Regions from separate parts of the Homo sapiens genome. Here region 1 is linked to region 2. Evidence: fine-mapped expression QTL. A gene starts in region 2. The other region holds a variant in brackets. All regions are shown on one strand. Distances are between the middles of the regions.

Region 1 (8,332 bases), 26 kb before region 2:
TAAATGAATATAATCAAGTTTTCCCTACTTTGGAGTACAAATTTTAAGCTTTTATATTAAAACCTATTTATGCCTAGTGTTCCATTATTGGAACACTAAGCATGTGGGAGTTATTTATGTCTTACTGCTCAAGGTCATCACCAGGGTCTGATTTTTCACACTCAAAAAATTGCAACCTCAGGCATAAATGGGTTAAAATGTACTATGACGTATCTCCAACTTCATCCTGGAATGGTTTTATCTGACAGGTTTAATAGTGGCAATGAGAATAAGTCTGGCTGGGCGCGGTGGCTCACGCCTGTAATCCCAGCACTTTGGGAGGCCGAGGCGGGTGGATCACGAGGTCAGGAGATGGAGACCATCCTGGCTAACACGGTGAAACCCCGTCTCTACTAAAAATACAAAAAATTAGCCGGGTATAGTGGTGGGCACCTGTAGTCCCAGCTACTCGGGAGGCTGAGGCAGGAGAATGGCGTGAGCCCGGGAGGTGGAGCTTGCAGTGAGCAGAGATTGTGCCACTGCCCTCCAGCCTGGGCGACAGAGTGAGACTCTGTCTCAAAAAAAAAAAAAAAAAAAAGAAGGATAAGTCTGACTTTGCCAGCAGGAAATTTTAAAAACAACCTCTCCCTGTGTATGTAACTCACATGGTATATACCTTATAATTCATGTGGCTGGCCATATTTTATTTATGAAATATTTGGAATCTGGAATCCAAAATCAGGGAAGGTGCAGATTCTTTGTTCCCTATTCATAGTGGAAATTAGTTCAAGTTGCTTTATTTTTAGCATTGCCATTCCACATTATTTTAAAGATAAGACTTTTGGGGTGACACTTTATTATTATTTTTATGTGTTTATTCATTTTTCCAATAATCAAGAAACAGAAAAATCAGAAGAAAGCCAGAGAAAAAGTGAGTTTCCTGTCTGCAGTGCTCAAAGCATACCACACACATTAGGAAATGACAGAAATGCACAAGCTAGACATCCAGCCAATCAAAACACATTGCCCAGAACGGTCAAGTTTAAATGGGATCATGCATTCCAAGTCTTGAAGTTTAAGACACATTAACATTAAGCCTTTCAACTTCACATAGTAATACAATCCAGCAACAACACAGCATCAATCAACAAAATCAGACTAAAAGAAAGAGCTTGTGCTTCCCCCAAGGGAGCCCTGTAGACAGATTGCACCTCAAAGTTGAAAGGACAGTTAAGCCTTCTCCTTGTTGCTTTCTCTGTTCTGGGACCACTTTGCAGTTTTCCTTCTTTCTGAATATGTTTTATCTCAGGTACAAATAGGTTGGCTCTTCTGCAAAAGACTAGCCAACTAGTCTACCACAGAGTTAGTTAAGTCTCATTATTTCGAATAAATTTGTGTTTTATTTTTAAACTCATTGACAACTCTATGTGTTTTTAATTAACTTCTTTGACTTCAGTTGTTTGAAATCCAAAAGTGGGCTTGGATAAAAATTAGCTTTATCAGTTTATGCCAGTGTGTGTTTAACCAGGTTTTTTCTTTACTATACATTAACTCCAGATAGATGGGGACTATTTGTTCATCAAAGGCTGGCTTTTCCTGCATATCTCTGTGGCAGACACTAGTTGGGTTACCTTGTGCAAAACGGCTCACACCAAATAGGGTTGTGGGAAGAACTGACACTTCCAAAACCAACTATGGTTGCAATTGTAAACAAGTGTCAAAGAGCCCGCATTCTTTATAAAGCTTAGCTAGGCATTGAGATGTAGGCTTTTAAAATATGACTTATTTGTGGGTTTGTTTTGGTTTTTTGTTTGTTGGTTTTGAGACAGGTTCTCACTCTGTTGCCTGGGCTGGAGTGCAGTGGCACTATCACGGCTCACTCTAGCCTCAACCTGTTGGGCTGAAGTAATCCTCCCACTTCAGTCTCCTGAGTAGCTAGGACTACAGTTGTGTGCCACCACACCCAGCTAATTATGTTTTGTTTTTTGTTTTTGTAGAGATGGGGTTTCTCCATGTTGCCCAGACTGTTCTGGAATTCCTGGGCGCAGGTGCTCCTCCTGCCTCAGCCTCCCAAAGTGTTGGGATTACAGGTGTCAGCCACCATGCCTGGCCACAATATGACTTCTTAAGCACCGTTAATACACCTAAGTGTTGGGCCCTATCTTTCAATTTGCCAGATACAGGGTGGTCATATAATTTATTGTCCATGCAAGGATCTTGAGAATGGTTAGGGTTGCTAACCCGATGGGTTGCCAGGACATCTGGTGTAAACCTGGACATCCATATATATGGGACTCTTCTGCCCCATGTGCCACTACCAAGTGTTTTTGAAGGTGTGTTGAAAATATTGCTAAATTTCACCTGCTAATTGTTCTGATGAATCTATGAATTTTTTTTCATCCTGGAATCATCCATGACTTCCTACTTGATCCATCAGATATCAGTATCTCACTATTTCTGGACCCCAGGACACTTTTCCACCACGAAGTTCTTTTCCTGCTTACAGTGCTACTGTCTGTTTCCCATCTCTGTTCGTGGAGATCCTAGTGATTCTTTGGGACCTAACTCAGCAGGATCTCTTCCAACACTTTAGCTTCCACAGGGCTGTATTTGTATCCTCCTTAGGGCACTCACCTCTTTCGGTTTTGTTATATTTTTATGTGTTGTATCATTTTTCATTACTTAACTGAAAGAAGGAACCAACCACAAAGCTGCACCTCTACATTACACATTGAATGTGAGCCCCTTGTTTTAGCTACTTCTTACGTGTTTGGTGAATTGTTTTTAAAAGTGTGGTAGGAAATAAACATCCAAGAAGGTAGAAAGCCTTGTTGTATTTGGCAAGGAACAGGCCGATGCTACTGCTGGATTTGAATGCCAGCTTCTCCAATTAAGAGCTGTGCAATCTTGTGCAAGTCACTTAACCTCTTGGCGGCCTGTAAAATGGGGATGATAATAGTACCTACCTCCTAAGATACTGAGTATTTAATGTTGCCAGGCACTGTCCTCACAGAACAGTGCTTGGCAAACAGTGCCTGGCAAGACTAAATACTCAATATCTCAGCTATTTTTATTGTTCAGACTTCATTTCCCTATTTTTTGAGGTTTTATTCACATTTTTGAATTGTATTGCAAATAAAAGAAAACCAAGAGCTATCGGCATGTGTAATGGAGGGAGGCCTAATGGCCACCTCCGTCAGGCACACCAGCAATATCCACTGAGAACTAATGCCTTGGTGACCCAAAGGTCACTTGATGGGACAGAATAAAATGTCCTCTTGACTTGAAGAGCCAACCAGGCCAACCCCAACCTCTCAACTTGAAATCAGAGAGTTGAGGTGCTGGTTCTCTGCACATCTGTAGAATAGGGACCATAAGAGTACCTACCTCATGGGCTTACAGTAAAGATGTAATGAGATCATCTATGTAAAGCACTGATCATAGTTTCTAGTACCTGCTCTACATTTGCTGTTGTTCACAGCATCTGTCCTGGAACATGAGTTGATTGTTGAGAGAGGTGTGGTGGGTGTTCTGGGGAAGATATCCTCATATTTCCTCCAGCCATCAGGAACCTCATGGCTAGCTCCATCAGGAGAAGCTCAGCAAGAGAGTGAGAATGCAAGCCTCTCGTTTTTTTATTAGAAATGGTGATTAGGAGACTGCCTTCCCCTCTCTGCGAGCATCCAGTGCAGGAGGGCCAATATCTACAGCTGCAAGGATGATCAGCTTGATGCTGAGGCAAGAGTTATGATTAGCAACAGAAGTGGCAAATTAAGTTCACTGACTAGCAGGCTGGGAAGAGCCAAGAAATCTGTATTAATCACCAAGGACAGAACATGAGCTCTTTGAGACTCTGCAGGGAGAAAAGAGGCTGAAAGTACCCACAGTACTTCTGGAAGGGGGCTCAGAACCAGTGAGTTTTCATTAGCATGGCTATTGCATCCTACAACCCTGGAGTCACTCACCCAGACTATAGTGACCTAAAGAACTCAGGGTTACACACAGCACAGAGCCACTGTCCCAGGGAAAGAAGTTTCTTTGCTTCCAGGCGCCTCTGTACCTAACTGTTACTGTTCTTTTCCCAGGGTCCCCAAAGAAGAGAATTCCACCAACTTTTCTTGGCATTCTCTGCCAATAATTAGCAATTTTTTCTTTATGTTTATCCTTATTAATGCCTATTCCTGTTCAGCTGTGCTCATGGAAAGATAGCCAGTGTGTTTTGCACTTTCCCAGGCAAGCACATCTCAGAGTCCAAATGGCACAGTTGCCTTCAGTTAATTTTCACTTAGATCTTAACCTTCTGAGTTTATTTCCACTTGAACTCTGGGTATTAAAGTAGAAATAATGCTTTGTGACCTTTAAGCGGGACACCAGCTGCTTCTCCACCCTTTCCCCTGTGGTTTAGTGACCCACACAGTCCAGTTCTGCAATAGCCTTGTTTCTGGAGTTCTAACCTCCTTCCCAGCAGGGAATGACTAATGCTTAAAGCCACGCATTACACGAAGGTTTACCAGGCAGAGCAAATAAATGGTCATCGGAGACATGCTTTCAAACAGAGATCTCTGTTCTTGGCATGAAGGTTAAGGTTAGTGAAAAAAAGTCCCACCTCTGCCCCTTTCTGTTCAGTTCCACCCCTTTATCTTCCCAAGGACATGAT[G/A]AGAAAGATTTTAAAAGTGATCACAGTGGTTTATCTTCATGACATGGGCAGATTTCCATGAGTCCTGTGATTCAGTGACACTCTGAGGAACCCATGACTGTGGGGTGGGCTTGGAACAAACTCACTGTTGGCAGAAGCTGTCCACTTCCCCCATTTTTTGCTCTGGCAAAAATAGATTTCAATGGCAGCTTAGGAAGGGGCCGCAGTGGGGAAGAGGTTGTGGTAAGAGAACATTCTTTCCCATTCTCCAAATCTTCCAAACCAAGCTTTGCTCCATGGGACCACTTCACCCAGAAGTCTGGGCTGGAGCTCAGGCTCTGACACTGTCATGGCTCCCAGCTTGATGGATGGGAGGAGGCAGGGAGCTGGGTTTCCAGCCAGGAACTAAGGGAACTCTACGCTCCTACAGTCCCTTTACTTACTGGGATGGTGTTCACCGCCTCTGCCCACTGAGCCTGCCAAAACAATCTGTCACAGCCAAGCCCAATCACTCCCCATTCCCTGCTCCAAAAAAGAAGAAACCTTGCTGCAGCTTCATAGACATTTGGTCAATCTGCAATAATAAAAAATAGAGGTAGTGGGGCATGGGGAGAGGGAAAGAAGAGAGGCTGGGGGCTGGTGATGGGACAAGTTGAGTTTGGAGCTGCAGAGTGGGAAACTATGGGATGGGCTGGGAATACACAGGGGAGGATGCCTCCTTAAAGTAGGCTTCGGACTATGTATATGGATCCCCTTTGGGCTTTGGGATAATTAGTGAAAGATCAGAGTTATCTTGAAATTCCTTTTGTTTACAAGACTGCATGTTTGGCTGCTCTATGGGGGTCCTGGCTGTGTAAAGGTCACACGTGTAAGTGGATTATGGGCTCATTCATCTCCACAGGGCAAGCTGGAGAAGTTTTTCTTGACTCACTGGAAACAGAAGTAAAAGGCTGAGGAAGGCATTGCGGGGTGGTTGTATCACACAGGCGATGGTGAAAAGTGGAGGTGATGTGGTAGGGAGGAAGACATCTGTGTTTGCTATTGACTTTCTATTTCTTCTGCCAGGGAGCCTGGCATCCGGGTCTCCTGTTGCCCAGCAGTGGAGCAGTCACTTCATTTCACTGTGTCTCACAGTTGTCTCTGCTGTTGGCAACTGGATGTGGGAGGGAACAGTGAAGAGACTACTAAAGTTTAATGTCCTTTTTATGACCAACTTTTGTTGCTGGCACCTTCCTCTTGGAAAAAATACACTGATTTATGACTGAACCATCCCTACACACGGAAATCAAATCATTCTTTCTGTCTCTTAGCTTATTTTTGTTTAGAGGAGCGGATGGCTTCCATAGGCTGTTCAGAAAATGGCTGGGACAAATCGGAGTAAAAAAACTTAAAAGTTTTTATTTCTGTCTCTTTCTCCCCACAGAGGAGTTTGAAATTCTTGCTTCAGGCCATATGGAGTGGATATTCCTTCCAGAAGGAAATTACAGACCACTCTCTGTTTCTACTCAACTGCTTTTCACTCCGTAAGTGGACTCTTTGAAGCAGCCTTTTATTTACCTCAGATTCTGACATGAATAATTGTTTAATTGCCTTTCAGCCTACACAAGATAAGGAACCATGTCTCAAAAATTGTATAATTCTCTTAACTAAACAATAGCCAAGCCATCCGGAGTAGTTTTCAAAGGAAAAAAGAATTCCTCACATATGTTAAGCATTTTATTCTTTTCAAAATGCATTGCTCTGTATTATTTCGCTAAATTGGATAACGTATACGAAAGCACTGTGTAAATTACATCACATAACAAAAAAGTGAAATGTTATAACAATGATCGATTTGATTTTCCATGTGGGAAACTGAGGCTTTACGGGAGTAAGTTACAATCCCAAATCACAGCAGTTAAACGGAGCCCAGACAGTGGTCTGTCTTCTACTTCCGGATGTGCTCTCTCCTCTGCAGAGGATGCTTCACCTCTTGGGGCCTTCCCCAGCAGAGGCCCAGGATCACCTGCAAAAGGCTTCCCCAAGGGTGGGGCCAGAAGCAGGGCTGCAGATATGTGTCCTGAACCTCCCATGGACCCTGCTGGCTCCCTTCAAAGGCTTCGGGCATAGCGACTTGCCTTTCCGTCTTGTTCAGTCGTCACCAGTCAGCCGTCTGCAGACTTCTCTCCCTCACGTTGTGGCAGAGGAGTTGTACATTCTCTAGATTTTAAAAATATATAAGTTACTTTTTCTTTAAAATAAAAATTGTCTCTGAAATAAGCTCCCAATACATTTGCGTATTTTTAAAACGTGTTAGCAAATTCTCATAATAGGATTTGCGTTTGTTAGAAGAGGACTGGGGCAGAAATCACAGAGGAATGAAGCACCTGCCACTCCCTCACCCCTCAGTGGGTGCAGCCCACCCAGGGAGGCAGCAGGATACAAGGTGGAGGAGTACCCCGATACCCAAGAACCCCATGCAAAGGATAGAGCAGCCTGAGAGCAGGGGCAGGATACCAGAGGGAAGGGCTCAGGAGGGTTTCAAATGTATCAAAGGACACAATCAACAGAGTGAAGGGGCAACCCAAGGAGAATCAAAGAAAATATTTGCAAATCATATATCTGATAAGGGATTGATATCCAGAATATATAAAGAACTCCTGGCCAAGCACAGTGGCTCATGCTTGTAATTCCAACACTTTGGGAGGCAGAGATGGGAGGATTGCTTGAAGCAAGGAGTTCAAGACCAGCCTGGGAAACAAAGTAGGACTCCATCTCTACAAAAAGAAAAAAAATAATTAGCTGGATGTGGTAGTGCACACCTGTAGTCCCCACTACTTGGGAGGCTGAGGTCCGGATTGCTTGAGACCAGGAGCCCGGAGGCTGCGGTGAGCTCTGATCTCACCACTGTACTCCAGCTGAGCTGATACAGTGAGACCCCGTCTCTAAAAAAAAAAAATTAAATATTTAAAAATAAGAACTCCTGCAACTCAACAACAACAAAGTCAGTCCAAATAAAAAATGGGCAAAGGACTTGAATAGACATTTGTCCAAAGATAATATGTATACAAATGGTCAATAAGCATATGAAAAGATGCTCAGCATCACTAATCAATCATTAGGAAAATGCAAATCAAAATCACAATGAGATACCACTTCACACTCATTAGGAAGGCTACTAATGAAAAAAAAAAATAGAAAATAACAAGTGTTGGATATTGAGAAACTGGAAGCCGGATGCATTGGGAATGGGCAGGAATGTAAAATGGTGCAGCCACTATGGAAAACAATATGGTGGTGCCTCAACAAATTAAACATAGAATTACCATATGTTTCAGCAATTCCAAAGAAACATCATTCTCTGGGGTAAACACCTGAGGTTCGCCATCTCATGCCAAGGATATCGAGTATGCAGACACACAGGAAGTGGGTTTAGGAGCAGAGGTTTAATAGGCAAAAGAAAGAGAAAAGAAAACAGCTCTCTCTTCTGCGAGAGAGAGAAGGGCACCTGAGTGGGAGTTCCGGCTGGTCGTGGAGTGCACAGGGTTTTATAGAAAGGCTTGAGGAGGCGGTGTCTGATTTACATAGGGCCCAAAGATTGGTTGGACCTAGTGTGATGTTTACATAGCTTGAGGGAAGCTGGCTTCCCCACCCTAATCTTATGCAAATGGGCTATTTGCCTGACGAGCTCCATGTTGTCTGCCCCCTGCTGCACATGTGGTTGGCAAGGAAAAGGGA
Region 2 (8,332 bases):
AAATTTCGTTTAATTCTTCTACTCAGATCTAAGTGTTGATATCTTACTATGAAGGAAACGGATTTTTTTTTTTGAGATGGAGTTTGACTCTTGTCACCCAGGCTGGAGTGCAATGGCACGATCTTGGCTCATTGCAACCTCTGCCTCCCAGGTTCAAGCGATTCTCCTGCCTCAGCCTCCCAAGTAGCTAGGATTACAGGCATTCAACACCATACCCAGCTAATTTTTGTATTTTTAGTAGAGATGGGATTTCACCATGTTGGCCAGGCTGGTCTGGAACTCCTGACCTCAGGCGATCCACATGCCTTGGCCTCCCAGAATACTGGAATTATAGGTGTGAGCCACCGTGCCTGCCCAGGAAACGGTTTTTTGATAGGAGGGACTGGTATGTTTATCTTAAACAAATGCATATAATTCTGATATAAAACCCCGATGTAACATTTTACCCTTCAAGAAAGCCAAATCATTCATAGACAGTGTGGTGTAGGTTTAAGGGCAATCAAGAGTTGTTGAGCTTGATCTATGTGAAGCTCATAGGGTGAGTTGTTGAGTTCGATCTATGTGGAATGGGGAGAGTAGGGGCTGGTGAGGGCTCTGTAGTGGACCTGCCCTCCTTGACTTACTAATTGAAAGCAACTTCTGCAGCTGTTATTGTTGTTGAGGTTGTATTCCACCAGCAGGTTGGAGACACAGGCAAAATATAACTAGATTTCAGCCACATGTTTGGACATGGTGCCAGAAGACTAGTTCATGCTGATTCCTGCATTTCTCCCTGTTATTTGAGGACAGGGGCCATCCTCTATTCAACTCTGTATCTCCAGCAAAGCACTGAACATAGCAGATGCTCAATTAACATATGTTGAAGTAAACTAAAGGCCTGGGTTCAAATTCCTACCCTATCATGTATTAGCTAGATGCCCCCATCCACTTCTTTGGCTTCAACCCCGTCTTTGATCTAGAGACTTTCAAATCTCAATCATTGACCTTGTCTTTCCAAAACGCCAGACCCAACTAACTCCTTGCCTCCTGGACTTTTCTACCTTGATGTTCCATAAGTAGCTCAAAATCAGTATGTCCCCCCTGAACTCATCACTATCTCTCCTCAAACTCCTACTCTTCCTCCTGTGAACCCTAGCTTCGTTAATGGTGTCACCATCTCTCTGGGTACCCAAGCAAGAGACTAAGTGGGTCTCTCTGCTCTTTTTCATTTATTTACTCATAAGATCCTTCCTGCTGACTCTGACTCAAAAATGTTGAAACCTCATCTCCATTCCCACAGCTGCTTCTGTTCAGACCCCCATCATATGTTATCTGGATTATTACATCAATCTCCTAACTGGTTTCTCTGCCTCTGATCTTCCTGTTTCAAAACATCTTCTTTGGTCATAACCAAAGGTGTCTATCTGAACTGAGGCATAATTATATCACTTCCTTTCTTTAAAACATCCCAAGGCTCCTCATTGTCTTAAGAATCCAAATTCCTGACAACTCAGAGGGTCTGTCACAATCTGGCTCCAACAGCCCTTTCTGGTCTCATCTCATATAAAACTGACCCCTCTTATCCCAAATAGGATGGTCTGCCCTAGCTGTTTAAAAATTTCCCCCCTCCCCCAGATGGAACCATAGCATCTCTCTTTGCATAGAATGGTACAGAATCTTCTCTCCCATCTCCTTATTGCTGCTGCTCCTTCCCCTGGGAGCCTCCCCTGTGTATTGGAAGTCTAGCCATGTGTCACCTCCTTTGAGCACCCTTCTTGGGGCAGAACCACTTATTTCTCATAGTGCTTAGTCCATACATCTATGGTAGCACTTATTGGATCCTTGTGTGTGTGTGTGTGTGACCTCAGAGCTTAAGATGGTCCCTGGTGCATAGTGATGACTCTGTCAATGTTTGGGACAAGAGTGAAGTTCTAAATAGGGCACAATGGATTTAACTGCTGGCACCAAATCCCTCCCCTGTGAAAACAGCCCCAGCCTCTGAGTCCTGTCTACAGTCTCAGCCCACCCCAGACCCATTCTCTTTGCAGGGATCCTCAAACCTCCCTTTGCAAGAAGATCTTCTGGATGCTTTTTTCACAGGTAGAGCATCCTTCCTGCGCCACAAAAGGTTGAGTGGGTAGTGATCAATTCATGCTCAGTGAATTAGATTTGTTCAGAGAGGCCCAGAGATGGGGTAATGATCCCATGGGTAAAAGATCCATGTCTGGAGAAAGGATAGGTGTGCACCTAGAAGAAGAGAAGAGAGTGGGGCTCATTTATATTCTGAGATTTAAATGAGATGTGGCGGGAGGACTCTTCATCCCATCTGATTAAACCTACACAAGAGTTCATGTGGGGGCACACAAAGACTAACTAAGGATATTCTCTACGTTCTACTCAACTTTTGGGATGTAGCTTAGAATCCTAAAACACAGTACTACAGAAAGCCTCGAAACTAGGCTAGATTCTCCTCCCATCCCATCCAGGCTTCTCCGCAGCAGAAATAGGTGTTTAATTAAATGGAATAATATAGTTCTCCTTTCATACCTCAGGAGATCAATGAGCCCATAGCTAGCACTCACATATTTATAGACTGAAGAAATGAACATATTCTGGGGCTCAAGGAGATCACCACCTACTGGGGAGGCAGGGGAGAAGGGAGGATGCTAGGACCCTGCTATCCCCACTACACGGCACATTGCAGTCTAGGGTTCACCGTGCAGTAGAAAGGAGAAGCAAAGCGATGAAACCCTCGTGGGATTCGTGAAGGCTTTATGGAAAAGCGATGTGATGATCAGTGGGATTTCTAGGGGGAAGGGATCCAGGGCCAGCAACCAGCTGAAGGAAAGGCTGAAAGGAGGGAAATGCAGGGTACGATCTGGATGGAGTTAAAATGGCAGAAAACTGAGGCTGAGTGAGAGGTCTGGTACTGAGGTGGGGATCGGAGTTCCAGCACTGGCCTTTGACAGCCTCTGGGTCCCAGGTGGAATGGGTAGGGCCAGAGCCCTTGCCTTCTTCTCCAATCAACACCAGGGGTGTGGTGTCTTAGGCAAGGATGGGTGCTGTGCGCCCTGCCGCCCACCATAGGCAGGGCCTGGGAACCCGGGGAGGACTCTCCCCACCTCCAGCCTCCGGCAGTGTCCGCCAGGCAGGGCGGGGGCCAGCGCTGGTGTTGAGTAGTGGACCCCAGGGGGATGACTAAGCCTTGCCTGCGAGCAGACTCGAGCATGCCAAGTTATGAGACGATGATAACTCTGCCCCGAGCCTCTGGGGTCGTGGCCGTGGGCCGGCAGGGGCGAGGCGGGCGTCCAGAGGGCGGATAAAAGGGGCCGCGCTGCGCCGGGGCCGCTTTCTCCGCGCGGTGCCTGCAGGGCTCCCAGCGAGTGGCAGCTTGGGAGGGGCCGCCCGGGCGGTCAGACTGGCACCTGAGCGGCCACCGCGTCCCGGCCAGGCGGGCAGACCGACCCCCTCCTCACCTCGCGCGCGGCTGACGCAGGCAGGGCGCCCGGCCCCTCCTGGGGACCATCAGGTGCCGGCTGGGGGCTGTAGGCACCGGACGGAAGCAGGCGGTGTGAGGACCGACGACGCGGGCATGGCGGGGGCGGCCTGCGAGCCGGTGGCCAGGCCGAGCCTGACCTCCATCTCGTCTGGGGAGCTTCGCAGCCTGTGGACCTGCGACTGCGAGCTGGCCCTGCTGCCGCTGGCTCAGCTGCTGCGCCTGCAGCCCGGTGCCTTCCAGCTGAGCGGCGACCAGCTCGTGGTGGCCAGGCCCGGGGAGCCGGCGGCGGCGCGGGGGGGCTTCAACGTCTTCGGTGACGGCCTCGTGCGCCTCGACGGGCAGCTCTACCGCCTCAGCAGCTACATCAAGAGGTGGGTGGCCTCGCCGTGCGCCCTGGCCCGTCGCCTGGTACCCGCAGACGCCTCCACCCGGCTGCGGTCTCTGGGAGCCTGGGCTGTCCTCGCTGCCTGCGACACCGCGTGGCCCCTTGCTCCGTGCGCTTCTAGACTTTCCTTCTGCTTCTATCACCCGGAGCCTGCACGCTCGCCCTGGTTCTTCTGCCTCTTGCACTGACATTTTGCAGCTGCTGCTTGAAGCCGCCCAGAAGGGCATCAGGACTGGGGGCGAGGGGGAGGGCAGGGGCCCCCCAGCCAGAGCTCATGAGTGGCAGATGCTTCTCCCATTCTGGCTCCTTAACTGGGTCAGATGAGCTCAAATTGGGAGCACACCCTTTAGGGGCTGTCTGCAGCTCTGCAAGACTCACATCCTGGCTTTGGAGCATGGGTGGCGGTGAGGAGCAGGGGGCATGCACCATTCTGAGCACTGCCAGCCCTCTCCAGTGAGGAGACCGAGTGGAGAAGCATGCAAAAGCTCAAAGTTTCCCATCTCTGGCCTCACTTCGTGTTTCAAAAGTAAACAAATAAACCGCAGCTGAGAAGGGAACAAAGCCCCTGGAAGTCCAGCCCGGGGCCATGTGGGCTGTGGAAGGCACAGATAAGTTCTGGGGAAATAAGTGCGAAACCTGAGGGCCTTAATGGGAAGGAGGCCCCCAGGATGCTTGACTGTTGTGGCCAGAGTGCCCCCAAGCTCTTCTTGGCAGACCGGCAGGATGTGGCCCAGCCATCTGAAGCAGGCTTTGGTGCCACAGGGTAAAGGAGGGCACTTCAGGCCTGATTCCACATGGCCTCAGGCCTCCAGAGTTCACTCTTGGCAAGGGCCTGGAGTGCAAAGACCTGTTATATTTGTGCTGAGAGAGCCAAGTGCCTGAAGAGGCAAGCATGGTCTAGAGTTTGACTCAGAAATGAATAAGATAGCCAGCTTTTGAGACACAGCGCCTTTGCTACTGGGAAAGACAGCGTGCTGTGGCACCCTGTGGGTAGGAGGGAGCCAAGAGAGGGAAGCAAACAAAATGAGATATTGAACGTGCAGTCTTCAAAACTCTTGGAGAAAAAACCTTGCTTTTCCAAAGATAGTGAGGGCTCTGAATGCCTGAAGAACCATTCCCCAGCAAGAATTTCTCCCTTTCTTAGTGAAATGAAAATTCCAATTCCAAACCATAAGCGGAGGACTGTGGGAGGAACTGAGTCAGATGTGTGCAGATTTAAAAAGAAGATACCCATTGTATTTGAGAGCAGGGTATGAAAAATAAAAATGTCCAGAATGAACGAAGCCGTAAGTTAGGGTTTTGACAGAACCAGTTCTCCTAATTGTAGCAAACAGTGCTGCAGAATCTGAAATGATTTTGAAGTCTGTCATCTAACTTTTGCTTTGAACACCTCCTACACAAAAGAAAATTAAACAACAGTGATTCCCCTGACAGCTTTGAATCTAGAATAAACAACTGGGCCACAGTGACCAGGTAACACAGACCAGGGTGCAAATACAAAACAACAAATAATAGGCTATCATTGTATAAGCAATACTGTGAGGGCTTCTTTTGTACCTGGGAAATAGCAAGGAGCCTCTGAAAATAATTTGGGTGATGGAAGGAGCTATCTATTGTCCTCAGGCAGGGAAGGAGGCTTTTATAACTGAGTGTGCAGTCCTGAAGGATGGCCAGGAGGGAATGTGGTCTAAATGGAGACAGCCTTCCAGGCAGAGGGGGAGGACTGGACTGTGGGCAGCAGTGAGAGGTTCTGCCCTCGGGAATCAGGAGGTGGGAGGTATGCCGAAGCCAGAACTCAGATATCTAAAGCTTCGTTCCTCTGAGCTGCCAAATTTGCCAGTTGTTTTTGGCTTTAGAGATAGCATAAAACCTCCCTCCCTCCCCTCCCTCCCTCCCCACTTCCTTCCCTCTCTCCCTCCCTCCCTCCCTTCCTTCCTTCCTTCTTTTTGAAAAATAAGCTCTGGCCAGTTTTATTAAAGATTTGCATGATTTATTTTCACCAGTCTGTTCTGGCATGCTTCCAAAGATCTCAGGGCTGGGTGCAGTGCCTCATGCCTGTAATCCCAGCACTTTGGGAGGCTGAGGTGGGCGGATTGCTTGAGTCCAGGACTTCGAGGCCAGCTTGGGCAACATAGTGAGACCTCCTGTCTACAAAAATTAGCTGGGCATAGTGACATGCACCTGTGGTCCCAGCTGCTCAGGAGGCCGAGGTGGGAGGTGGATGGCTTGAATCTTGGAGGTGGAGCTTGCAGTGAGCCGAGATGGTGCCACTGCACTCCAGCCTAGGCAACACAGTGAGACCCTGTCTCAAAAAAAAAAAAAAAAAAAAAAAATCTCAGCATTCCCTGGATCAGTGACACCAGGGTGCACTTGCTATGGTATTTTCCACATGCTGTGCCCAATTTAATGTTATTACTGCTGGAGTGGTAGATGGCAGTTTTGAGAGTATGCACCTTAGTTCTGTATTTCAGATTTCCTCGAGGCCAGGCAGTTGGTGGGGATGACCGGTTTCACTTTGCCTTGTCTATCATCTTCAGAGCCGGATTGCCCCAGCTTGTATTTTTGACCCTTAATGGGTTGGAGCCTAGAGTGGATGGACTCCAGTGACTTTTCGTCTTCTTTGCGGCCACCATATTCTGGCCTTGGATGTGGGATGGCCTCTAACCAAAAGCAGCCACCAAGATGGCCAGGGATCCCAAAAGGCAAAATGGTTCTTAATCATTTTGGACCATAGAACTTTTGAGAATTCTACGTAGATTCCCCAGAAATGTAAATATATACCCAATTTTTGCTGACCATCCAGGATGTTCATGAGATACTTGGACCCAGGTTAAGAATCCTTGCTCTATTAATTAATTAGTTCTTTTTAACTCAACAAATATTTTTGGCATATGGGATAAGCCCCTGGTGTAATTAGAATTTCTTTCTGGGACCTCATAAGTATGTACTGTGGCTTTCATGAGGCCCTTTTCCAAGGAACCCCGAAAGGCTAAGAGCCACCGACCTTGACTTTCAGGTTATTCACTCGCTAAGAGAGCAACAGGATGATTTTAGCAGCCCTACTTAGGTTCATTTTCTAATACTTTAACATTTTTTCTAAGTACATACCTACTAAGTAACCTAAAGAAATCCAGCATAGTGGGAAGGTTTAGTGATGACCACCAGCTCTAAAGCTCCTTCAAAAACCTACTTTAAAAATATTTGTCCTATTTTGTAGGATTTATGGCAAGATCTTTATTTTTATTATTTTCTTTCAAGATCAGGATTTTCGCCCATGTTGTAAACACAATGTGCTCAGGACACGAGATGTGGGTAATGGTCATTCAGGGAGCCATTCATTCAATACTTAAAAGTCAAAATTACCATTAACTACGACACACACACAAACACACACACACACACACACACACATGTTTTTTCCTATAAAGCAGCCTCTTGGTGAAATATAATGGCAAACGTTTGGCAAAGAAGACCTGGAGTCCCTTCTTTTTGGTGCTCCCCTAGCATGAAAGAGGCTGCCTGGAGAATAAAAATAAATACAATAGAAATGGTGGCTACTAACATTTACTCGAATGGTGTAAAGTATTTCACAGCTACTATCTCATAAAAGTTTACAAAGTTTGCATTACTGTTGTTTCTCCTTTTTACAGATGTAAGCATTAGGACTCAGAGCTTAAGTAATTTACCTAGGTAAGATGCTGCTAAGTGGGAGAACCAGGAGAACCTATGCTTTCAGCAAATTACTTTGAACCTGAAATAATCTTGCTTTCTCACTCATTTCCTGAATCTACAAATAAATAACTGGAATTATGTCAGCTAGTGCACATTTTGTACAATCAGCCTACAAAAGTAAGTAAGTGCAGTGATTTTAAGGAAGCCACTAAAAGCAGAGCTGTGACCTGCTCCTGGATGGGTGACAGTCACACCTACTCAGGGCGGAGAATGCAGGTGAGGTGAAGCGGCACTCATAGGGGTAAAATGAGGACAGTAGGGCTGGAACACACTTGGAAGTTTACTGGGGGAAGCCTCACCTCCATCCTGCAGTGGGAAGTGCTGGGCTCTGTCTGCTGGCCCAGGCCCAGTTCTCAGAAGAGATTCCAACTTGAGGCTGGGAGGTTGGAAGATGTGGTCTTAGATGTAGCAACCTGCTTAGGACAGCAGCCCCTTAGCAGGACACACAGTGATGTTGGTGAAATAATAACCATCCATGCATTGAGCTGTGAGATTTTTAGGAGAGTCAGTCTAGAGGAAGGGCTCTGCTCTTTGCGAGCTGAATGACCTTGGGAAATTTACTTATTGTCCATGGGACTCCATTTCCTCAACTATAAAGTGGGAATAGTAATAATACCATTAAGCAGCACCAGAAGCCAAGAGCTTTACACACATTATTGAATCTCTTAGCCACTCATGGGGTGCCTTTTTTTAGCCAGATTCTACAGGTGAGGAAAATGAATGTCTGCAAGGTTAAA

Alleles and levels. Positions count from the first base shown, and alleles are read on the strand shown. Sizes are in standard deviations (SD) of each study's normalised expression.
With allele A in place of G in region 1, the expression in adrenal gland of the gene that starts at base 3,327 in region 2 is higher (moderate effect, 0.59 SD a copy in GTEx).

What was found. PIP is the estimated chance that this variant, and not a neighbour inherited with it, causes the effect.
Region 1: its variant is fine-mapped to the expression of MEDAG in adrenal gland (GTEx, PIP above 0.99).

Annotation. Positions count from the first base shown.
Region 1 is chr13:30,876,522-30,884,853 of GRCh38, forward strand. LINC00545 (long intergenic non-protein coding RNA 545) reads left to right here and starts at 6,041. Exons shown (of 2, transcript NR_103813.1): 1 at 6,041-6,138; 2 at 6,573-6,874. TEX26-AS1 (TEX26 antisense RNA 1) reads right to left here. Exons shown (of 4, transcript NR_038287.1): 3 at 7,417-7,539; 4 at 6,314-6,814. The variant G/A (reference allele first, on the strand shown) is at 4,637.
Region 2 is chr13:30,902,945-30,911,276 of GRCh38, forward strand. MEDAG (mesenteric estrogen dependent adipogenesis) reads left to right here and starts at 3,327. Exons shown (of 5, transcript NM_032849.4): 1 at 3,327-3,849. The coding sequence starts at 3,572. All of the region lies in intron 2 of TEX26-AS1 (TEX26 antisense RNA 1), which reads right to left. RefSeq lists an enhancer at 3,928-4,429.